Linked DNA regions of Homo sapiens: all the other regions are linked to region 1. Evidence: fine-mapped expression QTL. A gene starts in region 1. Each other region holds a variant in brackets. All regions are shown on one strand. Distances are from middle to middle. Region 1 holds the start of LPIN1 (lipin 1). Region 2 overlaps FLJ33534 (Putative uncharacterized protein FLJ33534). Region 3 overlaps LPIN1 (lipin 1). Region 4 overlaps LPIN1 (lipin 1).

Region 1 (5,150 bases):
GTCAGCCAGGACTGTCCCAACCCCACAAAGAGCCCCTCCTCGCTGGCACCCTGTGGCACTTTAAAATCATAACAACCACAATGATTCGTGGACCCCATATTATGTTCCAGGGGCTCTTTTTTATCTCAATTAATTTTTGCAACAATCCTGTGAATGGGTATGATTATCCCTTCATTTTACAGATGGGAAAACTGAGGCTCAGAGGATTGAAGTCTTCTGCCCAAGTTCTACATCTGTGAGTGGTCAGAACAACAACTGCAAAGCCCAGTGCTCTGTGCCGGCCTCGGCGCATCTCAGACCACGGTGGCCTCAGGACCTTCTTCTGAAATATCTTTTCATCTCCTGACCCTCCCCTGCCGTCTGTTCTGGGCCCTTTGTGCAGCTGACCACGCAAAGAGCAGGAGAGCAGGACCCACAGACTTCCTTCTGGCTGGGCCAGGCCAATTGTCCCCACCTAATCCAGGGCAGGCTCCTTCTCAGTCACTTCCAAGGTCCCCCCTACAACCAGGAATCCCTGCGGTCTCTCACCTGAACCCTCGCGTTCTCTCCCACACCACAAGACTCAGCAGGTCCGCCCCTTGTCCCCCTGTGCTTTTCTAAAAGAAAGGAACTGCTGATAAGCGAGACCTGGGTGGGTGAAAGAACTCGCTCAGGGTCCCACAGAGCTCAGGCAGAGCCCAGACCTCCCGACCCGAGTCCAGGGCTATATCCAGGCCTGGCTCCACAGGACCACAGGGCCCCACATGCAAATAGGAATAATAAGCGCCAAAACACACAACCCATGCACAAAAACACTCAATAACAAATGCTGGCAAACGTGAAGTGCTATCAAAGTATATAATCATAAATCCAACTGTTACACCTTTCAACAAGAATCTGGGAGCAAGAAAAGTGTTCATGTGTGGATGTGCTTATTTCTCAAATACTATACATTCCTCAACTGCTTACTTTCATTAATAAGACCCAAATTACGGAACAAAGGATAAACAGTCAATCTCACAATCACTACCCCTAGACCACCATACCACAACACCCCCAATTAAAAAAACGGCTACAAGCTTTGATTTCCCAAAACACTTCTATCCTGTGGGAAACTGCCGGGTTCTAAAACATCTCCAAATTAATACTGCCAGTTGTCTTAGTTGGTTTCCTGCTTGCTGATCAAAAACAGGGTTGACATCTGCTTTCTCCAGCAACTACTGACCACACAAATTACCTACTCTAGCTCCACAGCACTTAAGTTACTCCCAAAACGTTACTTCTCATCCTGCATTTTCCTGGCCTTGCCCATAATAAAATTACGTGCAGGAGCAGCTGACGGAGCTCACTAGGCCTAGCACCTCCTAGGCTGCAAGAAAGGTGCAGAGGCCTCGCAGGGGAGAGCTGTAATATGAGAACCGGGATTCCAACCTGGGCTCAGCCTGCCCTGCCGCCCGGCAACTGTATGACCTTGGGCACAGAGGTCAACCTCCCTGAGCCTCAGTTTCCTCAACTGCAGCGCTGGAATCCTAACTCCGGGGGAAAGAAAGGCTCTCATCCCAGTCCCCGGCGCAAAGCTGGGGATGATCGCGCAGAGCCAGGACGCACCCGCGCTGGCCGGCTGGAGCTAGTCCCCGCGGTTCTGGGACTGCGCGGCAGCCCCCAGTGGCCCCTACGCCGCTCGAGATCAGCCAAGCCGGGCCCACACCGGGCCTCGCGGCGCGTCAGGAAAGCCAGGCCCGAGGGATGCTCGCGAGGCCCTCCCGGCCTCCGGGGCCTGTTTCCCCGCCTCCCTCCCCCGAACCACTTCCCGTAGAGGGCCCCGGGGACGTAGCCCGGCCGTCGGTCCTCGGGCCCCGGGGCCGAGCCCCCGCCTCGCCACGCGTCCTCAGCGCCCCGGCGCCGCGCCCCGCCCCGCCTAACCCGAGGCTGCGGCCCCTGCTCCACAGCGGGAGGCTGGAGGCGGCGGCTACTCACCGAGCGGCGCCGCGCGTGGCCGCCTTTGTATTGCAAACACCCAGCCCGCCGCCGGCTGTCAGCGCAGCTCGCCTTCGGGGGCGGGGCAGGGGCGGGGGCAGAGGGCAGGGGCGGGGCAAGCGGGGCGGTGCGAGGGGGACTCGGGACGCGCTGGTGGCCCGGCTGCTTTCAGGGCCTGCTGGCCGGCCCTGCCCGCTCACCCCTGGCCGCCTATCTTAGCGTTCCTGGGGGTGGGGCCCCTTAGGCCGCCTTTCTGATTTTCCTTTCCAGAGCCAAACTCGTGTGTTTCTTCAACACTCTGACTTGACCTATGCCGATGACTGGGGGAGTGAGGACGGAGGGGTGCAGAGAAAAGGCAGCCAGGTAAAAGTCCAGGTAAACCACCCAGGGCCTGGCCGCGATCACGTCGGTCCTATGGGTCCCGCTTATCACCAGTGGCGGGATCTGAGCCCGTCCTTGACTTTACTGACCCTCGCCCTTCGTTTCTTCCACCTTAAAGGCGCAATCGCGTTGACCTATCGCCATCTCTTCTTAGCTTCTCCACGCCGGGCCACCCCTGTCCTTCATCCTGATGGTGACAGCCTCCACTCCCGCCTCTGCCAAGCGGTGGTCCAGGTGCGGAACGGTGGCTCTGAACAGGAGGGACAGGCAGCTCCCTGCGCCTCTCCAGCCGGGAGGCAGGCAGCGGATAAACAATGAGCCACATAACGTCTGGTGGTGAAATGATTTCCATCAATGGGAGGGTGTCATATTTGAACTGAAACTCTAAATGACAAGAAACACCTATGACTACAAAGATGGGGAGGAGGCAGGGCTTTCTGGAGAGCAGAAATGGCAGGTGCAAAGGTCCTGGGGCCGGTGCTGTGGGCTGGAGGGAAGGCAGGGGCCAAATATTCAGGTCTTGTAGGCCAAGGCAAGGAGTTTAGGTATTATTTAAATGTTATTCCAAACCAATTCTTTTTGAGACAGGGTCCCACTCTGTCACCCAAGCTACAGTGCAGTGGCACAATCTCGGTTCACTGCAGCCTTCACCTTCTGGCCTCAGGCAATCCTCCTGCCTCAGCCTCTCAAGTAGCTGGGACCACAGGTGCATGCCACCACGCCCAGCTAATTTTTCAAACTATTTGTAGAGACCAGGTCTCCCTATGTTGCCCAGGCTGGTCTCAAACTGCTGGGCTCAAGCAGTCTTCCCACCTTGGCTTCCCAAAGTGCTGAGATTACAGGTGTGAACCACCACGCCTGGTCCAAAAAGAATTTTAAACCTGGGAATTATATGATCTAATTTACTTCTTTAAAAAGTCACCCCTCCACTCCATGGAAAATGGACTGCAGGAGTAGAAGCCAGCAGACAGGTGGCACTGCAGGAAACCGGGGGACATGATGGTGGCTCAGATTACAGGGGCTACTCAGCAAGAAGCGGAAGGACTTCAGAGAGATTTGGAGGCAAAACCCACAGGCTTACTGATGAATGGAACCGGTGGAGGTGTGTGATGCGATACTCAAAGGCAAGTCTCAGTGTGGAGATGGAACCGCTGCTCTGCTGAGATGCAGAGGGCCAGGGAGGAGGCCAGCTTAGAAACAGCATCGAATGCGGCAGCTTAGTGAATTGGATAAGCCAGCAAGCTTGAGATAGATGTTTGGGGACAGCTGCTTGGAGAGCTTTGTCCAGGGGCGCGGCTCCCGTCCATCTGGTCAAGTGTGGACACGCTCCCGCTGGGCTTGGGGCAGCTCCTATCTAGGCAGCCTGTCCCATGCTGACATTGCAGACGTGGGAGCTACACAAAGAGAATCTTGCAGTTTGTAGGTGAGCTACCTCCACAGGGGTTTTCTCAGAGACCAGAGTTTCAAGTGCATCACGGCTGCCCAAAACTGCTGAGGTTGCAAGGCCCCAGAAGGAAGCCCTCCTGCACCCTCCCCTCCCACCTCCAGGGAGGAGCTGGCCTGGGAAGAAGTCTACTCTATGTGGAAAGGCTTTCCAGGAAGCCAGTCCAACTTCAGGCCACTTAAGTTTATTTTTTGTGTAAAATAAGTCCATTATTCAAATGTGGAGATGGGAGGTCTGAAAATATAGGACAATTCAACTCAAAGCCCTCATTCTGAAAATGATGAGCTGGGGGGCCCAGCACGGCTAGGGTCAGCTCTGATGAGCAGGGTCTGGCTGGATTCAGAGCAAATTAGGTCCCGCTGCTGCCCAGCCTACCACCTCGGGGAAGGCCAAGGGTTGGGGGGAGCCTTTTGTATAAACAAGCAATGAGAAGAAAACACTCACTAGATCACAGTGCACTCCCAGGCGATAAACGAAACCGGACTTTCCAAAGCCCTGGCGCTTTTGATCAGGCACTGGCTGGAGTCCCCCTGGGAGGGCCCTTGGCTGTGCTATCAGCAACCAGGCCTGACTGAGCAGTGACTCAGCCAGGAGAGCTGAGGCGATCCCCCTGGCCAATCCCAGGACCTAGCTGCACTCGGAAGAGGAGAAGGAACTCCAGGGATGAGTAATCTTGCTCTAGCTGACTGGAGGAGGAAGGAGGGGCTGAGTAATGCCTTAGCAAAGCCAGCACAAGCATCCTGATTCTAGAGGCTCAGTTTCACAATCCAGGAAATGGGCTGCAGGTGCACATGACACAGATCTGCTTTGAGGATGAAAAAGGCATCATGGGAAGCTGCTGTCACAGTTGTGGGGTTGGAAGATTTTTCAATTCTAAAACCCCATAAGTTGAGGAGTGGCCATTCCCAGAAGGATCTGTTCACTGCTGAGCCCAGCTGGTGACAGTAGCTGTTGTATCCCGAGAACTCTGAAGTTGTCCAGATCAACCACCTACACAGGCCCAGAATACCTGGGGCAAGGTAGGCGGGAAGAATGAGCATCCCTCTTCACGGGTGCCCTGCGAGCTACTGTAGGAAGGAGAAACACTGGCTGATCCCCCAGGACTCTGAGCATGGTTAGCTCTGTAACTGCCCGGGCAGAAAGGATCCCAAAGAGAGGACAATGAATTCTTCCCCTAGAGGTGCAGACTTTTATCCCTGGCACCAGTGCCTGGGGCTCCGGGGAAGGGAGGGCATCTCCTCGGGGTCTAAGGCCACTCCTTGGTTGGGGGCCCCTCACGAGGTGACTTTGTCCTGCGCACTCTCTTAAGAACCAGGTGGGAACCAGGGGCCACCTGGTGCCGCTTCACTACCTTGGTGGCAGGGAACAG
Region 2 (5,150 bases), 650 kb after region 1:
ACCAGCTATGGGCAATAAATGTTATTGCATCCCATTGAACAGGTAGGCAAACCGAGGCTCTGGGAAATTTAGTGATTTTGTTTAGATCATGCAGCCATACAGTTTAGGGGATGTGGAGGTCATGGGAGCAGGATCTGAAATCATCACACTGGGTGTTAATTGTTCCTTAAATCCTGATCCCTGACTGCCATCTGGACTTGGAGGCAGGGTTAGGGAAGATCCTGCTCCTGGAAGGAGAAAGATGTGGAGTGGAGAAAATCTCAGCCACCAGGAAGACAAATGGGAGGACGGAGCCTTCCCGCCAGGCAGGTGGTGAGGAAGAGTGGGGTAGAGCCAGGCGGCACAGGCAGCAGCCCTTGATGTGCCAAGGCTGGAGCGTGAACTGGCTCTTGCAAGAAGAGGTCCTTTGAGGACCCTGCGGCTCCAGGACTTTCTGCAGAAGTGGGTGCTCCTCCCCAGGAAAGGAAAGGCGCATGATTTTGAGCAGCACTGGGCTTTTCCAGCGCCAAGAGAATTTCTCCTGAGTTTCAGACAAGAGCCTTTCCAGATTCTTCCTTGAAGCCCTACTGGGGAGAAGTGTGCCACTGAGCTGATGGGGGGATGCGACTTGGGGGACGGAACGTCAGCTGCCATGTCAGTGCCAGGGGCACTAGGCTGGCAAGAGAGCCACCATTTCTGCCCAAGCACTAGCCAGGGGATGATGGACATTGTGACAAAGAAACAAGGACAGTTGGGTGTGACAGTGACAATGGGCTCTCTGTGTGCCATGACATAGCAGGAAAGGCCAGGCCAGACGGACTGTGGATGTCTGATGGCTTTGAGTGAACTCAACAACCATTGACTAGGTGAAGAATGGGAAGGGCACCAGCTGAATCCTGAGGACCATCATCTGTTGAGCACCTACTGCCACCGTGTGCTCTGCATGCGTCACCTCACTTAATTTTCCCAGCAGCCATGGCCAGTAAATGTTATTGTATCCCATTTGACAAGTAGGCAAACTGAGGCTCTGGGAGATGTAGTAATTTTCTTTAGTTCATGCAGCCGTGCCTTACACAAGGGGTGCAGGATTTGAATTCTGTGCTTCTGTAACAGGGATATTATCCCTGTGAGGCCACCTAATAGGAGGCATGCTGTCAGAAAAGAAAATTCTGACCAGGCTACTGGCCTCTTTTCTTTCTTTCTTTTTCTTTTCTTTCTTTTTAAAAAAACAAAACAAAACAAAACAAAACAAAGCCAAAAAAAAAACAAAAAACAAAAAACAAGAGTCTCTGGCTGGGCACAGTGGCTCACACCTATAGTCACAACACTTTGGGAGGCCAAGGCAGGTGGATCACTTGAGGTCAGGAGTTCAAGACCAGCCTGGCCAACATGGCAAGATCCTGTCTCTACTAAAAATACAAAAATTAATCGAGTGTGATGGTGTGCACCTGTAATCCCAGCTACTCGGGAGGCTGAGGCACGAGAATCACTTGGACCTGGGAGGCAGAGGCTGCAATGAGCCAAGATTGTGCCACTGCACTCCAGCCCAGGGAACAGAAAGAAACCAGGTCTCAGAAAAAACAAACAAACAAACAAACAAACAAAGGAAAATTCAGAAGTGGGACTGAGTGATTTTCATCAATTACTTTGTTTATTGACACACTTTATTTGACACACTTTATATTGACACACTATATTTGACACTATATTTATTGAGCACTGTTATTTGCTAAATTAGGAAGACAGATAAAGGCTCACGAAAGAGGAGTTGGCCAGGTTTGCAATGGCTTCTCTGGGGTCACCAGCCAGTTAGGGCAGCACGAGGACCAGAACTGGGGGCTCCCAGCACCTGCCCTTCAGGGTTTTCAGGAGGCCACGTGCTTCCATGGAAGAGACTGCTTCCTTTTCCGATGGGATTGAGACTGAAGGTTGCATTCCCTGCGTCCTGGTCACGAACATTAAATGTAACACGATGACATAATTATAGAAATGGATAACACCCCAAGCCTCCTTAACCACCTGTTCTAATCATCGACAGCCCAGAACACATTGTAATAATTTGTCACCCATTTTTAAGGTACAATGCACTAACTCTTAATAAAGCGAGAGATGAGCAAATAAACATGCACGCCAGTCTGAATGCTATAATTAGAACTACCATTTGGTTAAAGAAAAATGGAGACGTTTTAATTTCAGGCCTCTGCTTGAATTCTGCTTGAATGTGAAGTTGCTGCTAGGGAACAAGCCACGTGTGTGAACACATCGAGTTCTGAGGACACGGTGGCATCTTGAGAAGGTATTTGTTTGTGAGTGAGGCTGGGGTGAGCTCTGTACATTACTAGATTCTTAAGTTCCGTGTTTATCTCCCAGGGCCAATCTAACATGATAATTAGTATTTTTCAGATATTCCTGACAGTTACTCAGGATGATGATTTCACATAAAATTTCTAACTCTATTGATATAACAGGTTGGCATCATTCTTTGACACCAATGGGTTGGGTGATGATAGGATGAACACAAATTATTCATTCATTTAATAAATAATTAGGACATACGTGTCTGTTATTTCCAGGGAAGCCAGGAAGTGTGTTTTCCTCGCTGTCTTCACAAAAACACCTCAGCCTTCTGTTCTGACCACTGAGTTAACATTTACAAGAGTGACTCCTTTAGGCCCCGT[C/G]AGTCCAAGTGCTCAGCAAAACTGACCAGAGCAATCCAGAAGCAGAAACCTACTCTCTCTGCAGTGTCATGAGTCAGCTAGATTTTAGACTTCATTCCTTCTTGGTTACTCAATTAGAGAAATTTCAAACTCCTGAGCCACAGGGAGGATGGGTACTCGCTTCCTATGCCCATCAGAGGGAGGGAGTAGGATGATTTCAGGTAATCAAGTTGGTGTACTTTGAAAATCAACCCATGCAGAATAAGAACCTTCCTGGAGAAGAGACCACACCCCCGGTGGGCCTCCGCCAAGGCACTCAGTTCCCTGGCATCGGTGAGTGCTCGGTGGAATGGTGGCCACTTCCAGCACTGGTCGCAAGCCAGGCACTGTGCTAAGCTCGGAGGCCTCCAGCACCACCCACGAGGAGGGTCCATGCTCTGAAACCTCCACGTGATGCAGCCACCAGCATCACCTGGAGGACCCTTTAAAATGCAGATTGCAGGGTGCCCCCAGACAGGGCTGCCAAACTTAACAAACAAACATTCAGGACATCCGATTAAATTTGAATTTCAGATAATGAATTATCATTTAATATAAGCATGACCCAAATATTGCGTGGATAATATTAATCATCTGTCTGAAATTCAAATTTAGCGGATGACCTGTAGTTTGTCTGGCAGCTCTACCCCCCGGGTTTCTGAAATGGCAGGTCTGTGCTGGGGCTTGAGGATTTGTATTTCCAGTAAGTTCTCGGGTGATGCCGATGCTGCTGGCCAAGGCCACACTTGGAGAACCACCGAGGAAGGTAATGTTATGATCCCCACTTTATGGTGAGTCAGATGGGGCACAAAAAGGCTAAGCAACGTGTCCAAGGTCACAGCTCTGGCTGGGACCCGGGGAGCCTGGCTTCCAGGTCTGCTTGTTAGCCACGGTGCCACCCCACCCCAACGAGAGGTGCTTCTCAGAAGTGGTGCAGCACCCCCACCCTCACCCCCACCCCCACCTCCACCCTCACCCCCACCCCCACCCCCAGGCTGTCTCCTCACATGCTTACTCCCAAAGTATTCTGGAGGTAAAGCCAAAATGGTTATTTTATTTTATTTTTTTTTGAGATGGAGTCTTTCTCTGTCACCCAGGCTGGAGTGCAATGGCGTGATCATGGCTCACTGCAACCTCCGCTTCCTGGGTTCAAGCGATTCTCCTTCCTCAGCCCCCTGTGTAGCTGGGACTACAGGCATGTGCCACCATGCCCAGCTAATTTTTATATTTTTAGTAGAGGTAGAGTTTCACCATGTTAGCTAATCTGGTCTTGAATTCCTGACCTCAGGTGATCCACCCACCTTGGCCTCCCAAAGTGCTGGGATTACAGACGTGAGCCACCCTGCCCAGCCGAAATGCTTATTTTAAAATGCAAGTTGAGGCTGGATGCAGTGGCTCATACCTGTAATCCCAGCACTTTGGGAAGCCGAGGCGGGTGGATCACTTGAGGTCAGGAGTTCGAGACCATGCTGGCCAACATGGCGAAACCTCGTCTCTACTAAGAATACAGAAATTAGCTGGGTGTGGTGGCACACACCTGTAATCCTAGCTACTCAGGAGGCTGAGGCATGAGAATTGCTTGAACCCGGGAAGCAGAGGTTGCAGTGAGCTGAGATCATGCCACTGCACTCCAGCCTGGTGGAGAGAGTGAGACTGTCTCAAAAAAAGAAAAATAAAAAAGTAAATGCAGGTTGAATTATGCTTCTCCTTCACTCAAAAGTGGACAATGACATCCATGTTCATCAGTAAAGCCTACATTCTGACTGTGGCCCTGACGTCCCCTCTGGCCTTATTTCCCACCGCCTCCCCCATTCATGCTTCTCCAGGCACACTGGCCTTCGTGCTGCCTTTGAACATTTCAGGCAGACTTCTGCCATAGTGCCTTTGCACCTGCTGTTCCTCTGCCTGGAATTCTCTTTTTCAACAAGCCCACATGGCTCCCTCACTGCATTCAGGTCGCTGGCACAATGTCACCTCTTGAGAGTTTTTCCCAGTGATCCAGCTGAGACAGCAGCTTTCTTCATCAACCTCTAGCCCCTCATCCTGCCTTTTATTCCTTTGCAGCACTTATCACCCATCAGCTGACATTCTGCATGTATATACTTGCATGTACACCTGTTTATCTGTCCTATTTATCTCCATCCACTAAAAGGTAAGCTCTGTGAAAGCAGGTCATTTGTTTTATGCACTACCTGGAACAGTGCCTGGTAATAGATGGTGCTCAAAAACCAAGACTGGATTAACTGCCTGTATCAGGCGCAAGTTCACCTGTTGGAATTCAGTGTCAAGACGCTACCCCTGCCCTTGCGGAGCTCAAGCTAACATGGAAGAGAGATGCAGAAAGATACAGTTATGCAACAGTGTGGCAAATGCAATGCTGAAGATCTGCTTGGGCGCAGCTCCGATGTATCCATCTCAGTTTGGAAAATGGCTCACACTTAAAGCTTTTTAAAAACGAGGTTAGTAGAATCTCAG
Region 3 (5,150 bases), 32 kb before region 1:
TGTTTACAGTTTCAAGACAGCAAGATTGTGTGTAAGTTGTATTTCTTTAATTTAATTTGCATTTAGCTGTGATAGAAAATGTAGATCCTGGCTGGGCACGGCAGCTCACGCTTATAATCCCAGCACTTTGGGAGGCAGAGGCAGGCGGGTCACTTGAGGTCAGCAGTTCAAGACCAGCCTGGCCAACACGGTGAAACCCCGTCTCTACTAAAAATACAAAAATTAGTGGGGCGTGGTGGCATGCGCCTGTAATCCCAGCTACTCGGGAGGCTGAAGCAGGAGAATCGCTTGAACCTGGGAGGCAGAGGTTGCAGTGAGCCAAGATAGAGCCATTGCCCTCCAGCCCGGGTGACAGAGTGAGACTCTGTCTCAAGAAAAAAAAAAAAAAGTAAATCCTAAGAGGAATCCCATAGGTTTAAAATCTACAAAAGCAATGAGACCTCTCTATAATGTTGGTAACGTGGAAGAAAGTAATTCCAACATTCAAGGCTAACCCTTAATATATTTTGGTTTACCTCTGGCTCCTGGTAGCTGTGTTTCTTGGCTATGCTATGATACTAATTCCATGTAATTTAAGCTGAGTTAGAAATCTTCGGTCCGTGGCAGAATTGAAGAGACTCTCACCTTAGCAGCCTGCGGCAGCTCTCCCCACAGCCAAAGCATTTCTGGGTTCTTCTGCCCTGTCCTTTCCGTGGACTTGCTGACCAATTCTGAATCACTTTTAGGTGTTGAAGGTCGGGAACCGGAAGGACTTAAGGAAAACACAAAGCGAAAATTAAGGTGGGAAAAGAAACTTTTGTAAATGTTTTGGGCCCAGCTCCATGGCTCAAATAGCCCAGAAAATGCACCCCCAGCTGTCGTTCGCTCTGAGCGGAGCCTCATGACAAATCCCTCCTCCGGCCACCAGGGGGCAGGGAAGCGCCTCCCATGGAAGGCGCTCCACGTGGGTCGCCCGCCCCACCCTGCCGCCTGGTGCACCGCGGGGGAGAGGAGAAAAAGAAGTGGCCCAGAATACAAAAGAAAGAGATGGAAAGAGAAAGGGAAAAATAGTCTGTTCTTACCTCAAAAAGACCACCCTTCCCCACCCCACTCTGCACTCGCATCTCCTGCAATCTGTTTCCAAATCAAGTTCCTCTGCTGTCAGAGGGCTGCAAAAGGGTCTTGGTTGGCTCGGGCAGGCACTCATTAGAGTCCATATTTTAAATATTTATCATCTGCACTGGCCTGGGAAACAGGGAAATTATATGATGTGCCAATTTTACCAAAGATGCTGGATGCCACAAATAAACTCGATAACGTTGGGCAGGAGCCTACAAGTTGAAATTTTCTAAGATCTTATGTCTTCCAGGAATACTTCACAAGGGACTCACCAACTGGTTAAGGCTCGCTCAGTAACCACCTCCATGTTTCCTGAATTTTTACTCTGAAGACCCAAACAAGGTCTTACTTCTGCCCAGCCAAAGTAACCATCCAAAAGTCATTAACTTATCCACAAGATCCTCACCATATTCTAAACAACTTAGAGAAATATTATTTACAGCAGCAATTCTTGTAATTATTTATTGCCGCATAATAACATGGTTAATTATTGCTTATTTTCCCACATCATTTCCTCTAGAGGAAGGCGGCAGGGTTTTTCAGACAAAGCAGGAAATAAAGCTTTCAGTTTCCCTTGCCGTCTTCTTTCCCAGACCTTATCTATTCTTCGGAAACTGATGCTTCTGGTCTCATTTACCTAGAGTTCAACTCCAATTGAATATAACTTTCCTGTCAATACAAGGTGAGTTCATGATGATACATAACTTGTATCCAACAAACAGGGACCTTGTGGGCTAAACTGATCCTGAATCTCTTTGATCAAGCTGCATAGAGCAGCCAGACCAAGTGCCATCTCTCTCATCTCACACCAAGGGGCAGAGGGTGGTCCCTGCTCCCTTGGTGCCCATGACTCCCAGCCCTTCTAATGACGTGCTGCCACGGGGCAGCCTGCACGCTCTCTTTCGCCTGCCTGGGGAGAGGAGGCTCCTGACATCACATTAGGAGAGCTTCTGCAATGGGACACCCTGCTCCCAACAGACACACATTTCTGCCCTTTAGGGAGCAGTCCTATAAGAAGGCACGTGGGCCCCCCCACGTCCATGTGGGAAAGGCTCCTGGCCTTTCAACCTCCTTGCTCTTCCAGTTCCACAACTGGACTTCTCCAAAGAGACAACGCTTTGGTGGCACTGAAGCGTCTACAGTCACGTGTTCGGTATCACTGCAATGGGAAAAGCGCAGGCTGTGGCCTCCAGCGAGGGGCCTCAGTACCTACAAGTGTGACCGCAATCCACTCTTTCTCCAGCATCATCATGGAATAAGTCCATCAAAACCAACTTCTCACCCTCAACGGTGCTGTTCCCAAACCTCAAAGTATCTAAAAAGCTCTTGCCATTCTGTTTCACCAGACAAAATAGAACATATTTGGCTATAAGTTCTTTGCAGCAATAAATT[A/G]TCTCACTGTCACTAAATGAAATAAAGTCCTTTAGACAAAGCTTGCTCCGAACAGGGGTCGGCAAACATTTTCTGTAAAGAGCCCAGTGGCAGATATCTCGGGCTTTACGGGTTTTACGACGTCTGTCGCAACCACTCGCTGCTGTGGTGGTGTGAAAGCAGCCACAGCCAGTATGTAAACCAACTGCCTATGCCCGGGAAAGTCTGACAGAGGCAGATGGTGGACCAGATTTGACCCATGGGCCGTGCTTTACCAACCTCTGCTCTAGAAGAACGAAATGCGGAACACGGTTCTCCTGCAGCAATTCCCAACTCCAGAGTTCCTAACATTCTGGTCCCTTCATAAAAGCCACGAGCCACAAAACCCATAGAGGCACTCAGGCGTGCAACTCACGCATAAGGAGCCCAGCCCTACGAGAAAGTCTGCTGCAAGTCCCTCCCCAACAGCAAACAGGCCACCACCATAAATGCTGCCCGTTCAGGCCACAGCAACCCTTCTCCAAAGGTCTCGTGCACAAACACAGATGCGCTTTCTGCCGACCGTCACTGAGGGAATTCAGACAGACCAAAAAGGACGCAGGAATGGGGCCCACTGCCAAGTGGGATTTACCAGAAAGATGACTCCAAAGTGCTCCGTCATGAAATATTATTATTTTAAGATCAAGGGTTGTTCAAAAAAGTAAGCTTACAAGGTCAATGACTGATGTTCATAAACAAGGTATTTATTAGCCTTATCAAAGTTTTCAGTATTTTTGCCAGTCCCAATAAGGCTAGTTAGTTTTAACTATTAACAACTTTGTTTTCCTCATTTTAAACGGACTTTTCTTCTGCAAATGTAGCCTCTGAATGAAGTACATCCTGAGGTCTGGATCTTTAATCAAAAAGACAAAAGGTTTTCCACGTACAAATTAATCGTAGCTTCATTTGCTAAGGCTTACAAAGTAAACCATGTAAGTCCACAAAGTAGGTAGGTCAAAACTGAGGGAATGAAGGCAGAAATCTGAGATGACTACATCGAGTGAACACACCAACCTTTGATCCTCAGCCTGAGACCCAGCCCAGGCCATTCTCCAAGATTCTGTTCTAGAAATGCTGTGGAAAGTGTCTGACTCCATTATTCAGACAGCCCAATAAACTACTTAAATGTTTATAATAAATTAAAGTGGTATTCCAAAAATATCTTGTAAACTTATTTGTCAAACAACCCGAGACAGAAAACAGAAGATCATATTCCCAAGCTATATTTCATTATTCTCATTTTCAAAGCACTTCACAGAATTAGGTAAAATTATATGCTTAACCATAATTTCCAGAGAGTCAAATTTAGGAATTAAAAAAAAAAAAAAATCTGATCATCTACAAATGCTTATAACGAAAGGAAAAGAGTAATCTATATACATATTTTTCATAAGTAATTTGGTTAGTGAAATCGATTTGTAAAAGTTAAATCAAAATTTTCACTTCATATAATCTACAGGTATTTTCTTCATAAGTAATTTGGTTAATGGTAAAATAGACTTATAGTAAGAGTTAGATCAAATTTTTCATTATTGAATATATCCCAATGGGGAAAATAACTCCTCTACCTTTCCGAAGGATGGAACAGGGAAGACTGTGGAGGGCAAGAACTAGACAGACCTCCCTCGGCCGCAACTGCAAGATGAGGGGCAGTCCTTTTGCAATCTACCAGGCTACTGGATACCACCACGTGATACACATTAAAAGAAAGACAAAATCAGAGGTCAATTACATCAAGTGAGATTATATAAAGTATATGTAATATACTTTATATAAAGATTATATATAAGATTATATAAAGTATATATAATATACTTTAAAGACTATATATAAGATTATATAAAGTATATATAATATACTTTATATAAAGATTATATATAAGATTATATATAATTACAAAGTATATATACTTTATATAAAGATTATATATATTACGTAAAGTATTTGACTACTCTCAACAACGACATTTTTAAGAAAATAAAGAAACTCAGACATCTGATAATGGCAGAGCACCGGATATTGAAATTGCTAAGAAATCAGCATGAATTTTCTGAGACACAAAAGCAGGAAACTGCCAAATGACCTATTTCACTTTCTGTTTCACCCATGTGTAGAACTGATCATCTCTGGTCACACTTTCGTGCTTAATCAAACTACATAATCCAAAAATGTGCTCGTGTGTGCTGTCAATTGTCTCTTTACAGAAAATACCTAATTCCAAATGTGGAAATGTAGCTATTTATCCTAATTTGTCATTCCATTTGGTGATAGTCAGAGCTACATAACCTGACTCAGTCATTATGCTGCATTCATGAGGCAAAACATTACAGATGTTTTGAGCATTAAACACGCTCAGAGTTGTGTTTAAAGTGTTTCTTTTAAATCCTTAAAATTAACATACAGTGCTTGAACAGATTTTTTCATCTATTATTGGGTTCTAAATATTCTACATTATTTTCCTCCTAAACCACTATTTTTCCCTCCACTATTTTATCTCCACAGACCTAGAGAAAGAATGAGAATCTAGAAAGGTCTTATATCTGCACTGTCCAATATAATAAACCACCAGCTACAGGTGGCTCCTGAGCACTTGAAACGTGGCTTGTCCAAATTGGGATGTTCTGCGCATGTGAAATACATAA
Region 4 (5,150 bases), 80 kb before region 1:
GAGCTCCGCCAGCACGTGGGAATCCACAGGCCAAAGACAATAGTCTAGACAAATTTTTATTTTATAGATAAAAGAGCCCGCACACTGAAGTCCGAGTTGGAACAAATCCGTGATGGTGTTCAACAAAATTAGAAGGTTTTGTTTTTTAAGATGCAAAAGCATTAATTCTACAGGCACCTAGAGATGAACCGTTTGGATTTGGGCTTCATTAGGAATTGGGCCTAGTATCCTGGCCGGCTATGTTGCATTTAGGGGGCCAATACTTTTCCATTTATTCCAAAAACGCTTAGGCTGATGCAGGTAAATCAATAGGAAGCTTCCAGCCACGTTGACATGTAAAATCAATAGGAATTATGACAGTTTTCAGCTTATATGATTGCACTAGTCAAGGATTTTGATTCATTCAAAATGAAAAATGAATCTGGGGTTTACCACAGAGAAGAGTCGAAAAAATGAGGACAGCAGCTGTGAGGCTGGGGAACCCCCATGTGCTAAACACCAATTCTAGGCCAGGCCCTGGGAGGCACTTCATGAAATTCACTTGATTGAAACCTCCCTACTCCTGAATCATCCCACCAGGGCAGGGAGGGATCCCGGGTGCAGCCTTCTCCTCTCTTTCTTCATCCCTCCCGTCCCCAGCAAGTGCATAGAGAAGGCTGGTCTTTTACCCATTTAAATCTAAAACATCAGGAAAAACATTTATTCCAAATAGTGAACAATTCATAGCCTGAAGATTTTTTTTAGAATATGCTTGATAACACACCCCAGAAAAGTCAACAACTTAGTAACTTACCAAAAACTATTTAAAATTCACACACCTGATTTTCAGAGAAGTCTTTCATCGGTCTCATTTATTGCAATATTTTCTAGCTTTGCATCCAGTACAACACAATGAAGTATTACAGTGATTTTTATCATTGCATCAGCATATACAAATACAGATCAAATGCAAATAAAGTGTGCTTACAGTGGTGATCCAAACATAAAATTGCAAAGGGAATTCTCTTTGAAAGTGTAATTATTTTTCTCCAATGTACCAGGTATATATTTTTCTCTATGCCAGGTATACATATTTGTCTTCATCACATGTGACAAACATTTGATGACTTGTCACTAAGTAGGATTCATTTCCATAGGGCAACTTTGAAATGTGTGGTCCAAATACAGCATTCCAGCACATGACCTCAGCATCACTGGGTTATAGTCATGTACACAAAGATAAACCAACTCGTATATGCGTGAGTGCAGCCCATATACAAATCTCACTTTCAGAAGCCAGAAGGCAGGTGTTAATATGCCAGCCTTGCCAGGGCTCACATTGAACTTGACACAGATCTGAGAGTGTGACTTTCTGGAAAGCATGCTCTGTTTCAGGGTGCAGTGATGTGGAAGTTTAAGGTACATCAAAATTCGGGATCCAAAATTGCATCCTCTGAAAACTCCGCCTGCAGGGTGTGCTGCTGCAGAGGGCTGCCTGGATGCCAACTGCATGAGGGATACATCCCCCCATTCTCGCAGCCAAAGTTCCTCCTGGGTGCAAAGGAGAAACCGTCTGAACCTTTGCAGGCCCATGAGCTTATACTTAGTTCAGAGCAGTTAAAATTCACTCAAAAATACCCTCATTGCATAAAGAATGAATATAGCCTCTTTAGGTTACTAGTGAACAAGCGCAGAGGAGTTAGTTAAGGCAGGACTTTTTTTTTTTTTTTTTTTTTTTTGACATGGAGTCTTACTCTGTCACCCAGGCTGGAGTGCAGTAGTGCAAGCTCGGCTCACTGCAACCTCAGGCAGGACTATTTTTAATTATTTTTAATACCTGCAAAAGGGAATCTGCACATGCACATCCGTGTTTCTACAGAAATCTGCGATCGATGGCAGATCTGTTTGCCTTTGTGTGTCCACATGAACCATTTGGCAAAGGCATCCAATGCTAACGGGGCCCACCAACTACAACGGAGGCAACAACTCTGTGGATTTTCTTTCACAGAAAGAGTAAAATTTCATTCAACCGTTCCATTTTTTGCCTCCTGTGATTCTAACAATGAAATTTAAATAGGAAAATGTTTCAATCGTTGGAGTAAAACACTCTTTAAAAAAATAATGCTTCGAAAAGTAAAGCAAAATCTTTTACCAAAATAATTCTTTCACTTTTCAAATTGTTCTGTCCACGAGCCAGTGTAATAAACAAGTGAAAGAATCACATTCTGTAGGCTTAAAGAATGCCAAATTATTACTTTTTCGCTTGCCCTTAATTTGAGTGGAAAAAGCTAAGGAAAATAAATGACTCAGAAATTCCAAAAGAAGGTCAGTCTATGAGAAAGAGAGAATAAGGCCCTTTCGATAGTCTAACACATACATCTTTTTAATATATTAATGACAGTGGTATAGAAAGAATATGAATAAATGCCTATCACAGTAACCTAATCAGAGTAAAACAATACATAATATCTAAAAGAATATAGTTGAACTTCTTGAAACTATTTTCTTAAAACCAACCAGTTTCTTTGGAGAGCTCCCAACAGAAGTCAGTATCATTATCATTTGGCATAAGTGTGCTCAAGTCCACACTGTCAGCACCACCTCGCTGGATGGAAGGAAGCCGGCAGTGTCAAACTCATTCAAAATACTGCCTTAGTAATATTTACTGTCATTTTAATCTAAGGCGTTGCAAAGTTACCATGAGCTAGATAAAGCGCATTCTTAAATGTCTGCCATAGATATATTAAGGCATAAATATTCCAGCCTTGAGCCACAAAAACTGGGGGGAGATATGCCAATGAAATAGACTATCTTTAACCAAAGGAATTAAAGAAAAA[T/C]TTATCACCTAAAAATGAGACTAGTCAGCAAATACTGTAAGGGGCCCATCCACAAGGCCAAGTCTGAGGCCAGGCCTGGACCCGGTGGCGTCCAGATTTCTATCAGAGACCTCAGATCCAGGTCACATGAGCCTTCACAGCCCTCCCCACTGTGTTCAGAAGGTGGTGGCACTAACATTGCTATAATGGAAATGTGCCCCCTACTTTGCCAAAAACCGTGCACATCTGGCATTCCTCGATTGACCCTGTCCTAGGCGGGGACAGCCCTCAGACAGCCGCCTTCTGCCTAGGTTTCACAGCCCCAAACTGCACGTGAACCAGTAGCTACTTGCTGGAGCAGGCCGGAAAGGCAGCGTCGTAACTGGCATTAAGCCACAACTGAGGAATGCTTTTCACGGTACAAATGCACCCAACTCCTAGCCTAGAAAGTGCTCCCTTCCTATCTTGCTTAGAAATGTCAGCCCCGGGGTGGGGCAGGGGAGAAATGCTTCTCAATTCTCTCTGCTGTCAGGCCAATGATGACGCGCCAGGCTCCCAGGTGGAGCTGTGCACTCCGGGGAGACCTATCCTTTAATGGGTGACAACCAGGCTCTGCACTGCTGGCAAGAGGCTGCTTGGGACATTTTACGCTGAGGCAGAATGAATGTCCTGGTTTTCAAAAGGTGGCAGTGGCTCTCTCCAAAAGGTGAAGTTACTGAAGGTATCCGAACAGGGAAAGTCTGAAGAATGGCTTCTTTTCAGCAACGGGAAAACGTGGTCGACTACTTCACAGAGTCTCACATACCTGGAAGGAAAGGGACATTGTCACTGGCACTGAGCGATACCAGCTATGCACCCAGGGCTGCACGTAGAAGTCAAGAGAGATCTACAACCTCAAGGAGCAGACCGCCTACTTATCGACACGACTCAAGTCATTCTAGAATAATTTGTTATCGATTAATTGAAAATGAGAGATGAAAATGAAGAGTATGCAAACAAGGCATCAGAGAAGGCTCTGGGGAAGAGGTGGGTGGGACCTGACTTCACTTGAAGGACAGGTAAAGGAGATACAGCCAAGCAAAAGACGGCAGGAGGAAGTCACCATGGCCATGGGATAGCGCCTGCTGCAGGGGTCACATATGGGACATCGGGGGAAGAATCACAGACAAGGCACATCTTTGGAGCACCTGACAGAGATTGCTTCATTGCATAGTGAAAAGGAGCTGGGTCCTGGGGTTAAAGAGACATTAATTTGATGTTCAGCTCTGCCATTTACTAGCTGCGTGATCGTGGGCAAATGGCGTAACCTCTCTAAGCCAATTTCCTCCACTGTAAAGGGAGGAAAATAAAAACTATGCCACAGTTTTAAGGATAATTTAAATAAAATAACATATGCAACATTAAAATAATGTATACTGGGTGCTCAAATGTATCTAAATGACAAATTATCAACACGTCTTAGAGAAAAAAGCCCTGGTTGGCATGACGGTCAAGAGACCCGGGCTCTCCTGCTTGCTGTAACCTTGGACAATTGTCTTGCCCTCTTGGAGCCCTTCGTCTTTATAGTCTGTGGAGCTGAATTAGAGCAGGGCTTCCCAATGCTTCCTACAACGTTCTCTTGCTCTCTTTTATTTGCATGCCCAAAAATATGTTGCATGTTAGTTTCTGTGGCTTATACTATGAAAAGAAAGTTGCTATTGCTATATTGAATATGCATGTTCAGACCTCCAGGCACCTCCAAACTGAGATTCTGGCACACCCAGCCCACTGCCAGCCATCCCCAGATTCCTCCTTGACAGTCACTGATCACTGTCTAGTTCCAAATTGCTAAGAACCTAAAGGAACTTCCAAAATCCAGACTCCAGAAGTGTGCATGTTCTGAGGTATAAAATAATGTACTAAATGAAGCCGAGTGTGTATATTTAATAAAGGACCTCCAAAGGACTTATGAGAAACAGTGTGCTTGCACAAAATGGGAAAGTGACGTCTCCTAATACAAAACCAAGAGTTATGTCTTTCCTTGGGATTCAAACAAACAGACAGATTTTTAAAATACCTCCCGGCTTTAAGGCTTATTTGTCTGAGGTTTGTGGCTGCGGCAGCAGGGCCCCTCCCTGCAGGCTTGACTACAAGGCCGCGGTGCACTGGAACCAAACCCACTCTCACACTCCCTGAGCGGCCAGGCCGAGTTCCATCTGCGCGCCTCCCCCAGACCGACCTCCACACACAGTGCTCCTCCCAAGCAGGCAGAGCTTACGCACAGACACTCGCAAACGAAAGGGAAAAAGAACTGAGCTGCTCCCGCTGTGTGGCCCCAGCCTCTGAAGACATTTCAGATGACTGTCCCAGTTCTGA

What was found.
Region 2: its variant is fine-mapped to the expression of LPIN1 in anterior cingulate cortex (GTEx, PIP 0.96).
Region 3: its variant is fine-mapped to the expression of LPIN1 in whole blood (INTERVAL, PIP above 0.99).
Region 4: its variant is fine-mapped to the expression of LPIN1 in whole blood (INTERVAL, PIP above 0.99).

What each region holds. Positions count from the first base shown.
Region 1 is chr2:11,743,478-11,748,627 of GRCh38, reverse strand. LPIN1 (lipin 1) reads right to left here and starts at 1,996. Exons shown (of 21, transcript NM_001349206.2): 1 at 1,957-1,996. LOC124907735 (a long non-coding RNA gene) reads left to right here and starts at 3,169. Exons shown (of 2, transcript XR_007086220.1): 1 at 3,169-4,800. RefSeq lists enhancers at 73-744, 3,256-3,829 and a silencer at 1,748-2,317.
Region 2 is chr2:11,095,085-11,100,234 of GRCh38, reverse strand. It overlaps FLJ33534 (Putative uncharacterized protein FLJ33534), which reads left to right. Exons shown (of 9, transcript NR_040080.1): 9 at 172-384. Among named protein-coding and RNA genes, the nearest start is that of FLJ33534, 35 kb to the left of the region's middle. The variant C/G (reference allele first, on the strand shown) is at 2,658.
Region 3 is chr2:11,775,120-11,780,269 of GRCh38, reverse strand. LPIN1 (lipin 1) reads right to left here. Exons shown (of 21, transcript NM_001349206.2): 6 at 4,077-4,184; 7 at 625-751. Among named protein-coding and RNA genes, the nearest start is that of MIR548S, 10 kb to the right of the region's middle. RefSeq lists an enhancer at 143-1,342. The variant A/G (reference allele first, on the strand shown) is at 2,491.
Region 4 is chr2:11,823,082-11,828,231 of GRCh38, reverse strand. LPIN1 (lipin 1) reads right to left here. Exons shown (of 21, transcript NM_001349206.2): 21 at 823-3,600. The coding sequence ends at 3,441. Among named protein-coding and RNA genes, the nearest start is that of MIR4262, 11 kb to the left of the region's middle. RefSeq lists an enhancer at 439-548. The variant T/C (reference allele first, on the strand shown) is at 2,817.